3 separate regions of the Homo sapiens genome follow, and regions 1 and 3 are each reported to be linked to region 2. Evidence: microRNA targets listed by miRTarBase, many of them from high-throughput screens and not tested one by one. Region 2 holds a microRNA gene; each other region holds the end of a gene's coding sequence.

Evidence for each region. The annotated mature microRNA hsa-miR-6512-3p reads UUCCAGCCCUUCUAAUGGUAGG and lies in region 2 at 1,836-1,857, opposite strand. An mRNA with a match to its seed (bases 2 to 7 or 8) in the 3' UTR can be bound and repressed. Matches are read on the target gene's strand: a 7mer-m8 pairs with bases 2 to 8, a 7mer-A1 pairs with bases 2 to 7 and ends in A, and an 8mer does both.
Region 1: miRTarBase lists SC5D as a target of hsa-miR-6512-3p. The part of its 3' UTR that is shown has no 7-base or 8-base seed match.
Region 3: the mRNA of OR7D2 is a reported target of hsa-miR-6512-3p. Seed matches in the 3' UTR shown: 7mer-m8 at 954-960 and 7mer-m8 at 2,127-2,133.

What each region holds. Positions count from the first base shown.
Region 1 is chr11:121,306,901-121,310,019 of GRCh38, reverse strand. SC5D (sterol-C5-desaturase) reads right to left here. Exons shown (of 5, transcript NM_006918.5): 5 at 1-2,963. The coding sequence ends at 2,508. Among named protein-coding and RNA genes, the nearest start is that of SC5D, 16 kb to the right of the region's middle.
Region 2 is chr2:177,311,976-177,315,243 of GRCh38, forward strand. MIR6512 (microRNA 6512) reads right to left here and starts at 1,907; the gene lies at 1,831-1,907. All of the region lies in intron 6 of LOC100130691 (Putative uncharacterized protein FLJ44553), which reads right to left.
Region 3 is chr19:9,186,010-9,189,128 of GRCh38, forward strand. It overlaps OR7D2 (olfactory receptor family 7 subfamily D member 2), which reads left to right. Exons shown (of 3, transcript NM_175883.4): 3 at 1-2,809. The coding sequence ends at 711. Among named protein-coding and RNA genes, the nearest start is that of OR7D2, 8.6 kb to the left of the region's middle.

The DNA.
Region 1 (3,119 bases), not on the chromosome of region 2:
TAAGGAAATTCACTCAGTACTGCAGAGACAGCATGGAAGACAAAGACTCAGTCTCTGTGTTTCTGAAAGGTCTTCTCGAACCATATCCACCCACTTCTCAATTTCTACCACAAAAGTAGAAAACGTAACCTTGATTTTCACTTTCTGTCCTGTAACTATAAAAGTCATCTGTAGAAGGTAATTTGGGTCCTCACTTCCATAAATATTCTCTGACTTCCTCTAATAGAAAGTAGGAGAATGTGGCAGTACTGTATATTACAATGTTAGGACTACTTAACATAACGCTGCTTTAAAAGACCAGAATTTGAGACGGGTGAAAGGGCAGGGGCAAGTTTGATTATTCCTAACATCTATGAGGAAGCCTCTGTCTTCCCCATAGGAAGCTGTCCTTTCTTCTCTATTAGTTATATAGGAATAAGAATCTAGAGGAAGCTTTAAACATTCATATTGGAGTTAAGAATTAAAGACACTGAGATGATTAGTGTGTGGATAACCTGAAATACTTTATGGCTCATTCACCATTTCAACATCAACAAGAGGAGAACACCACAAATACGGCAAACTGTCTAGCTGCTCAAGAAAATGGTGCCCCCTTCCTCCCAGGCACACAGCTGGACACATTTCCCAAAATCTCTCTAGGTGGGCCATGTGACGGAGTTCTGTCCAAAGGAACATGGGCGGAAGAGATATGCACCACTTCCAGGCCTGACCCAGAAACATTTTCCACACAGACTTTTCCTTCTTTTCCTATGTGCTCTTTCAACAAAGAGGGCTCTATGGACTGAGAGAAAGGCAGAGCCCCAAGAGGAAGGAGCCTGGGTCGCAGAAAGACTAGGTGGAAAGCTGTCCACTGACCACAAACATCCACATGGGACATCATATGAGAGAGAAATAAACCTGGGAATAGTTACTTAACTTCTTTGGGTCCTAGTCTCTGGGCAAAGAGGAAAAGCTCAATAAATATCAGCTGACATTATATTAGGAAATAAAGTTTACTTCTCCTTAATTTCTTTTTCTTAGGCAAGGCGGAGCACCGGGGGTGAGTGGGATTGGTGAAAAGCACTAAATGACATTTGCCTATTACAAAATGCTAATTGGTACATTTAAATAAGATGACATTGTGACAATAACTCACAGATTAAAGACATTTTCTTCTGGATCCCAGACATTAGATTTTAAGACTGATTTCTTGCTAAAAACACTCAAATCTAGTTAAAATGTGAAATATAAACAGAATGTGGTACCCACTTCTTTCCCCCTGTGACACTGAGTGTCCGGGGATGTTCTAAAACACAATTAACAATCCACATCATTTCTGTGGCTTCAAATTGGCACAAAATCTGTACAAAGAATACTTTGTGCTGCTATAATACTCAACTGATACAGTTTAATTATGATCAACTTTTATTGATTTTACATAAATAGCTTATAGAATGCCTTTACAAACTATGTTTTTGCAATATATTTGTTACAACACACATTTCCTTATGAATGTATTTGTTAAATCTTTTTGCAGAGGAAGTAGGGAAAAGTGAGGGGAGAAGAGGAGGAATAAGATTTTAGAACTAATCGTCAGCAATGGGCCTAGGTATTTGGCAATTATTTCCTTTACAAAAAAATTACAGGTTTGTAACTTCAAACATCAAAAGTGTAGTGCATCAATTTAACTAAAAAATCAGTAGTGCCTAATATATTATCTGGGCATCAAATTTCTTTTTTTAAATATATCCAGATTCACATATTTTTACTCTTATTAAATAATGGTTTTAAATAATAATCATCACAATGTTTAGCTACATAATCCCAGATCTGGATTAAATCATGGTGATATCGATATTTTTAAATTCCAATTTATTTGTTAATCAGTAAAATGTAATAGGTGATAGTGTGTCCAGAGAATGAGCCTCCTATGTGTAGGAAGACGATAGTCTTATTACACCTGCTATCAATTAGGTCATTTACATAGCTGCTAATGTATCAGAATTTTTTTCCACACTGATGTAGTACTTTATTCAAGTCAAAACAAGTTATCATTATCATACCAACGTTGAAGAATTAACCATTCCTGAAACAAGAAACAATCTTTACATTAGTATTTCTTGGTTATGGTGCTTAGTCTTGGTATTATTAAGCACAATGATTCTTAATAAACATGGGTGGATGAAGGCAAATGCATATAGCCTAGTCCCCTCAATAATTTATTCTCCATCTTATTTAAAATTGTTGTTGAGGCTATACAAACTACAGATCTGCTGCTAGAAAGATACAAGTTGTCCCCCGAACAACATCTGGCATTTTAAGCATAAGATTAAAGTCCTGGTGTTCACAGCATCTTCTTCTGACCTACCACTAGGATCATTCCTCAGCAGTGCCCACGATGCTGATTTCCAAATGATACCATTTACTATGTATCTTGACTGTATGGATATTATTTTTTCCTTATTAAAAAAAAGAAATACGATGATATTTCCTTCTTTGTCCTTACTTAAGAATAACTGGGCAATAATCTATTCAGTCTTTGTAAACTCTCCATTGAATAATTTTTCATTCTTACAGCCATTTCCTGAATGGCTGCTGCGCTTTCCCTCTGTCATCTCCTTCACATAACTGAGCGGTCCCTTCCCCTCAAAGGATGAAGGATTTTTGAATGAGCCGCCAATCCTATCCCACAAAGTGAAATATTGTCCATAATTATAGTCAAAGAACATATGGTGGTCTGTATGATGAGCTGAGCCATTAATAAATGGCTGTAAGATTTGGGGGACACGAAAATCACCGTCATGAATGGAAATTGTCCAGATATTAACCAAGATGTACAGACTTAAATAAACCACCTTGTGTAATGGAAAGATAAAAGGGTATATATGGTAAGGTAGACTCTGAAGAAAGCCATCAATAGGGTGAAAAGCATGACTTGCAAATGGAGTAGGAATCTTCCAAATATGGTGAGGTTTATGTAGGCGCTGCAGGAGAAAAGGACACAATTAGCACTGCAAACTTTACCCCGTGCAACATTCAACTTAGCTTCTCACACTCATGTTGGAAACAACCTAACAAATCCTGTAGAGATCAGCAAAATTATTTATTCTATAAAATGTCCTTCTTCGCCCTAAAACAGT
Region 2 (3,268 bases):
CACTTTGGGAGGCCGAAGCAGGCAGATCACAAGGTCAGGAGATTGAGACCATCCTGGCTCACATGGTGAAACCCCGTCTCTACTAAAAATACAAAAAATTAGCTGGGCATGGTGGCGGGCACCTGTAGTCCCAGCTACTTGGGAGGCTGAGGCAGGAGAATGGCGTGAACCCGGGAGGAGGAGCTTGCAGTGAGCCGAGATCACGCCACTGCACTCCAGCCTGGGTGACAGAGCAAGACTCCATCTCAAAAAAAAAAAACAAAAAACAAAAAGCCACATAGTGGCAAAAGATATTATCAATACATATACCCGACAAAGGACTCATATCCAGAATAAAGGACTATAAAAACAAGAAAAGGCAGACAAGCCCATAGAAAATCACACAAAACACATGAATAGGCATTTCACAGAAGAGGGTACCCAAATGGCCAATAAACAATTAAAAAGGTGTTTATTTGATATCAGAAAAATGAAAACAACAATGAGATTCAATACACTGCATTAGTCTTTGAAGAGAATGGCTAAAATTTAAAAGATGGAAAAGATCAAGTTTTGATGAAGATGTGAAAAACTGTTGGGCAGTACTACTCAAGCTGAACCCCATGCATCAGAGAAATTACACTTTTATATATCCAACTGAAATATGTGTGTGTGTGTGTGTTCACCAATGTTCACAGTGGCACTAGTTGCAGTAATCTCAAATTGGAAACAACCCAAATGTCCATCTTTGGTAGAACGTATAAATTGTGTTATATTCATACAATGGAATACTACACAGCAATGAAAATGAAGATACTATTATTACTCTCAACATGAATGAATCTCACAAATAGTTGAGTAGGAAAAGCCAGTAATAAAATAATACACACTGTATCATTCCATTTTGTCTAATGTTTAAAAATAGGCCAAATTGGTCTAGGGTATTAGAAGCCAAGATTACAGTCAATTTGAGGGAGGATAATGCCTAGAAAAGATAATGAAGGGAGCTTCTGGTATGGTAGTAGTTTCTGCCTCCCAATCTGGGTGCTAGCAATATGTAGGTGTGTTTACTTTATGAAAATTCATCAAGCTCTCTGATTATAATTTGTGCATTTTTCTGTCTGTATGCTATACTTCAATAAAGATAGATTTATACTGAGTTAGGAACAAAGCTCAATAACTATAATTCTAGGCTGAGCTGCTAATAGGATTTGTTAAACAATTTAAACTGTGCCAGTCAGATATAATGATGCGAAATTAGAAAGGTAAAAGGAAGAGAGAGGCTATTTCCCCTGCCTATTAGTTTTCCTTCCTTCCTTCCTTCCTCCCTTTTCTTTCTCTTCTTTCTCCTTCCTTCTTTCTCTTTCTCCTTCCTTCCTTCCTTCCTTTTCTTTCTCTTCTCCTTCCTTCCTTCCTTCCTCTTCTTTCCCTTCCTTCCTTTCTCTCTCTCTCTTTTTACCTTCCTCCTTCCCTCCCTCCTTCTCTCTCTCTATTTATTTATTTTTTGAGAAAGATTCTTGTTCTGTCCAGGCTGGAGTACAGTGGCACAATCACAACTCACTGCAGCCTAGACCTCCTGGGCTCAAGGATCCTCCCACCTCAGTGTCCCAAATGTTTGGGACTTCAGGCATGCACCAACATGCCTGGCTGCCTATTAGTTTTCACTGGTAGTTGTTGATGTACGTGCAACATTAAATGTGGTTTTTAATGACCAGACTTTCTGTGCCTCTGCATTGCCACTAACTTCATCTGTGAGAAATGACTGTGATGCCAGCAGTGGACTTTATAGCTTCCTGACCTCTAGATTGTAGCTGTGTGGACTGAACTGCGAGCCCAACAGCATCCCTCTTAATGCTCCTACCATTAGAAGGGCTGGAAGAAGGCATCTCCCTCAGCCTTCTTCCAGCTCTTCTAATGGTAAGAGCATATAATTTTTAAGCATATAATTCTTAGCATTCAGTACCTAGAGAAGTGTCTGCACTGAACCCCAACTGATATATCAGTTAATAACACAACTGATAGGTTATCTAGTAGGTTTATGGTTGGTTGTAAGAATCTTTGGGAAAGAAAATTACCATTGGCAATCCTACCACCTAGGATCATCATTATCATGGGAAAGTTCTGCTTTAGAGGCAACCTAAATCTATTTTGAGGTCCTGAAAATGCATTTACTTCACAGGATATGCTGGTTTCTGCTGCCATTCAAAAATTATTCTTAAGGCATTCTTTGTTCTCTTTTCACTAGCTAAATAATGCCGTGCTTTTAACTTTTCTTTATGTGTTCAGCAGCTTTTCCCAGTTGTGGATATTTGAAAAAAGTATTCATATAAATACTGCCTGTTCTGGTAGGATTAGCTGTCCCTTTCTTTTGGTTATATTCCCAAGTTCATTCTTGCTTATCTAACCAAAGCCCTACATTGCTGACTCAAGTTTAGTTTATGGTCCAAGCCCAGTATCATGTTACTATTAGCCAAGATTTCCCATGGGTTGAGGCAGACTTGTAGAAGATTGAAAAATAAAACTTACTGGCCATAAGTAAGACTTTTTATCTGGCCTTCCAGTACAGAACATTCTCTAATATAGCAGCTTATAAACAATGAGAATCAGAAGCCTAAAAAAATTAGTTAATAGCCAAACAGTGACTGAATCATGGAATTGTACAGTTAGAATGGACCTTAGAAGCAGTCTATATAAGCCAGGTATAGTGGCTCATGCCTGTAATCTCAGCACTTTGGGAGGCCAAGGCAGGAGGATCTCTTGAGCCCTGGAGTTTGAGACCAGCCTGGCCAAAATGGTGAGACCCCATCTCTACTAATTTTTTTAAAAAGTCTATATACATACCAGAACACAGAGCTCAGATATGTATGCAGGATTCCAGTCCGTGCTGAATACTCTTCCAGTATGAGTACTCTTCCTACTCCTCAAGGTGTGTGGCCCTCAAAGCAGCAGCATCAGCACTTACCTGGGAGCTTGTTAGAAAGCCAGAATCTCAGGCTCCAACACCCACTGAAGCAGAATTTGCATGTAACACCCCCACCCCTTCTTGATTTGTATGCATGTTGAAATTTGTGGAGTTAGAGACAAAAGCACCACAGGTGCATGTCTTACTATTTAAAGTCTTGCCTAATTATATAACATAGAAACCTGATCCCTTCTGGACAAGGCCTGTATTATTACAGGTCCTGGTCTAATAGAGTATTTGAATAGCTGGGTTAAAGAAAAAGAAAACTCTCTTTAATAATCTTTGGAAAAAGAGGACATTTATTTGAGCTATGCTAGTTTTTAATGT
Region 3 (3,119 bases), not on the chromosome of region 2:
ATCGTCCCCAAGATGCTGGTGAACATCCAGACCGAGAACAAAGCCATCTCCTACATGGACTGCCTCACACAGGTCTATTTCTCCATGTTTTTTCCTATTCTGGACACGCTACTCCTGACCGTGATGGCCTATGACCGGTTTGTGGCTGTCTGCCACCCTCTGCACTATATGATCATCATGAACCCCCACCTCTGTGGCCTCCTGGTTTTTGTCACCTGGCTCATTGGTGTCATGACATCCCTCCTCCATATTTCTCTGATGATGCATCTAATCTTCTGTAAAGATTTTGAAATTCCACATTTTTTCTGCGAACTGACGTACATCCTCCAGCTGGCCTGCTCTGATACCTTCCTGAACAGCACGTTGATATACTTTATGACGGGTGTGCTGGGCGTTTTTCCCCTCCTTGGGATCATTTTCTCTTATTCACGAATTGCTTCATCCATAAGGAAGATGTCCTCATCTGGGGGAAAACAAAAAGCACTTTCCACCTGTGGGTCTCACCTCTCCGTCGTTTCTTTATTTTATGGGACAGGCATTGGGGTCCACTTCACTTCTGCGGTGACTCACTCTTCCCAGAAAATCTCCGTGGCCTCGGTGATGTACACTGTGGTCACCCCCATGTTGAACCCCTTCATCTACAGCCTGAGGAACAAGGATGTGAAGGGAGCCCTGGGGAGTCTCCTCAGCAGGGCAGCCTCTTGTTTGTGATGGATCCCTTGGCCCCAGGACTAAGAAGTTTTGTGAGCACCAATGGCAAAAATGTTTTATTTTGAAATTCTTACTCTTTAAAATTAAAAACATTTTTTTATACTTTGAGAGTACAAATGCAGATTTCTTAACATGCATTTGCATAAGGGTGAAGTCTGAGCTTTTGGCGTACCAATTACCTGAATAGTGAACATAAGGCACTTTTTTTTCTTTTTTGAGACGGAGTCTCACTCTGTCTCCCAGGCTGGAGTGCAGTGGAGTGATCTCGGCTCACTGCAACCTCCGCCTCCCGGGTTCAAGTGATTCTTCTGTCTCAGCCTCCTGAGTAGCTGAGATTACAGGTGTGTGCCACCCATGCCTTTTAGTAGAGACGGGGTTTCACCATCTTGGCCAGGCTGGTCTCGAACTCCTGACCTTGTGATCCACCTGCCTTGGCCTCTCAAAGTGCTGGGATTACAGGTGTGAGCCACCACGCCCGGCCAAGGCAGTTTTTAAACTCTCACTCCCCTCTCACCTTTTGCAGTCTCCAGTGTCCATTATTCTGTTATAATGCCCATGCGTATACATTGTTTAGCTCCCAATTATAAGTGAGATCATGCAGCATTTGACTTTGTTTCTTTACTACCTTACTTAAGAGAATGGCTTCCAGTCCCATCGATGTTGCTGCAAAAGACATGATTTCATCCTTTTTTATGGCTGAGTAGTACTCCATTGTATATATCCTCGATATCTATATAGATATAGACATATGTAGATACATACCATGTTTTCTTTTTTTAAAAAAATTTATTTTTATGTCAGTAGTTTTTGGGGTACATGTGGTTTTTCATTACACGGATGAGTTCTTTAGTGGTGACTTCTGAGTTTTTAGTGTACCCGTCACCCAAGTGGTAGTAGTCTCTTATTCCTCACCCCCCTCCCAACCTTTCTCCCTTCAAGTCACCAAAGTTCATTATATTGTTCATATCCCTTTGTGTCCTCATAGCTTAGCTCCCACTTATAACTGAGAACATACGATATGTTCATATGGATCTTATGTATGTTGGTTGAACATACAAACAAGTCCAGGTTTTTCATTCCTGAGTTACTTCACCTAGAGTAATGACCTCCAGTTCCATCCAAGTTGCTACAAAAGACATTATTTGGTTCCTTTTTATGGATAAGTAGTATTCCATGCTGTACATATACCACAATCTTTATCACTCATTGGTTGATGGGCACTTAGGTTGGTTCCATGCCTTTGTAATTGCTAATTATGTTGCTATAAACATGCAGGTGTATGTGTCTTTTTCACATAATGACTTTGTTTCCTTTGGGTAGATACCCAGTAGTGGAACTGCTGGACTGAAAGGTAGTTCTACTTTTAGTTCTTTTTTTTGTTTTTTTTTTAAGACAGAGTCTCACTCTGTTGCCCAGGCTGGAGTGCAGTGGCGCGATCTCATCTCACTGCAACCTCCACCTCCCAGGTTCAAGCGATTCTCCTGCCTCAACCTCCTGAGTAGCTGGGACTACAGGCACCTGCCACCCCACCCAGCTAATTCTTCTATTTTTAGTAGAGACAGGGTTTCACCATGTTGGCCAGGCTGGTCTTGAACTCCTGACCTCAGGTGATACGCCCACCTCGGCCTCCCAAAGTGCTGGGATTACAGGTGTGAGCCACTGTGCCTGGCCTTCTAGTTCTTTAAGATACCACTTTAAAAAAAGTCCAGTCCTCCATTGATGGACACGTAGGTTGATTCCATATCTTTGCTAATGTGAATAGTGCCGTGATAAACATGGGGGTGTAAGTTAACAATTAATCTCCAAGTAATTTCCTTGATGGCACTTCTGTCCTATGTGCTATTCAAAAATTGTGTCCTTGATCATCGTTCTTAATTCTCCATTAGTGAGTTCTGAACTTGGGTTTGAAGCATTTGCTATAGCTTTGTTATCTCAAGTGGTGGCACAGAGTTCTTAAGCTATTGATTGTTCACTGACTTTATTTCTATGTGTTTGCATGTGGGTTTTTGTTGTTTGTGTGTTCGATCATGAACAGATCAACAGTGTTTATTTGTTTTCCTACTGGATGAAGTATGATTAAAATACGTATTTAAATATAGCTGGTTATATCTCTCTGGTGTCTCTTCTTCTTCTAAGAATATCAGTCCTATTAGATCAGGGCCTGACCCTTATGATTTCAGTAAACTTTAATTACCTCCCTGAGGACCCTGTATCTAAAGACAGTCATCATATTGGGGGTGAGGACTTCACTATATTAATTTTGGGGGGTGCAATTTAGTCCATAAGAGATGTTTATGCAGATCTGAGAAAGTTTCTGCCAACTCTATGGGGAGCTCTAAAGCTAGGGCTGCTCTTTGGAGAATTCTCACATTGTGTAGAAATAACCAGGCCCTATTACCCCAGGAAGC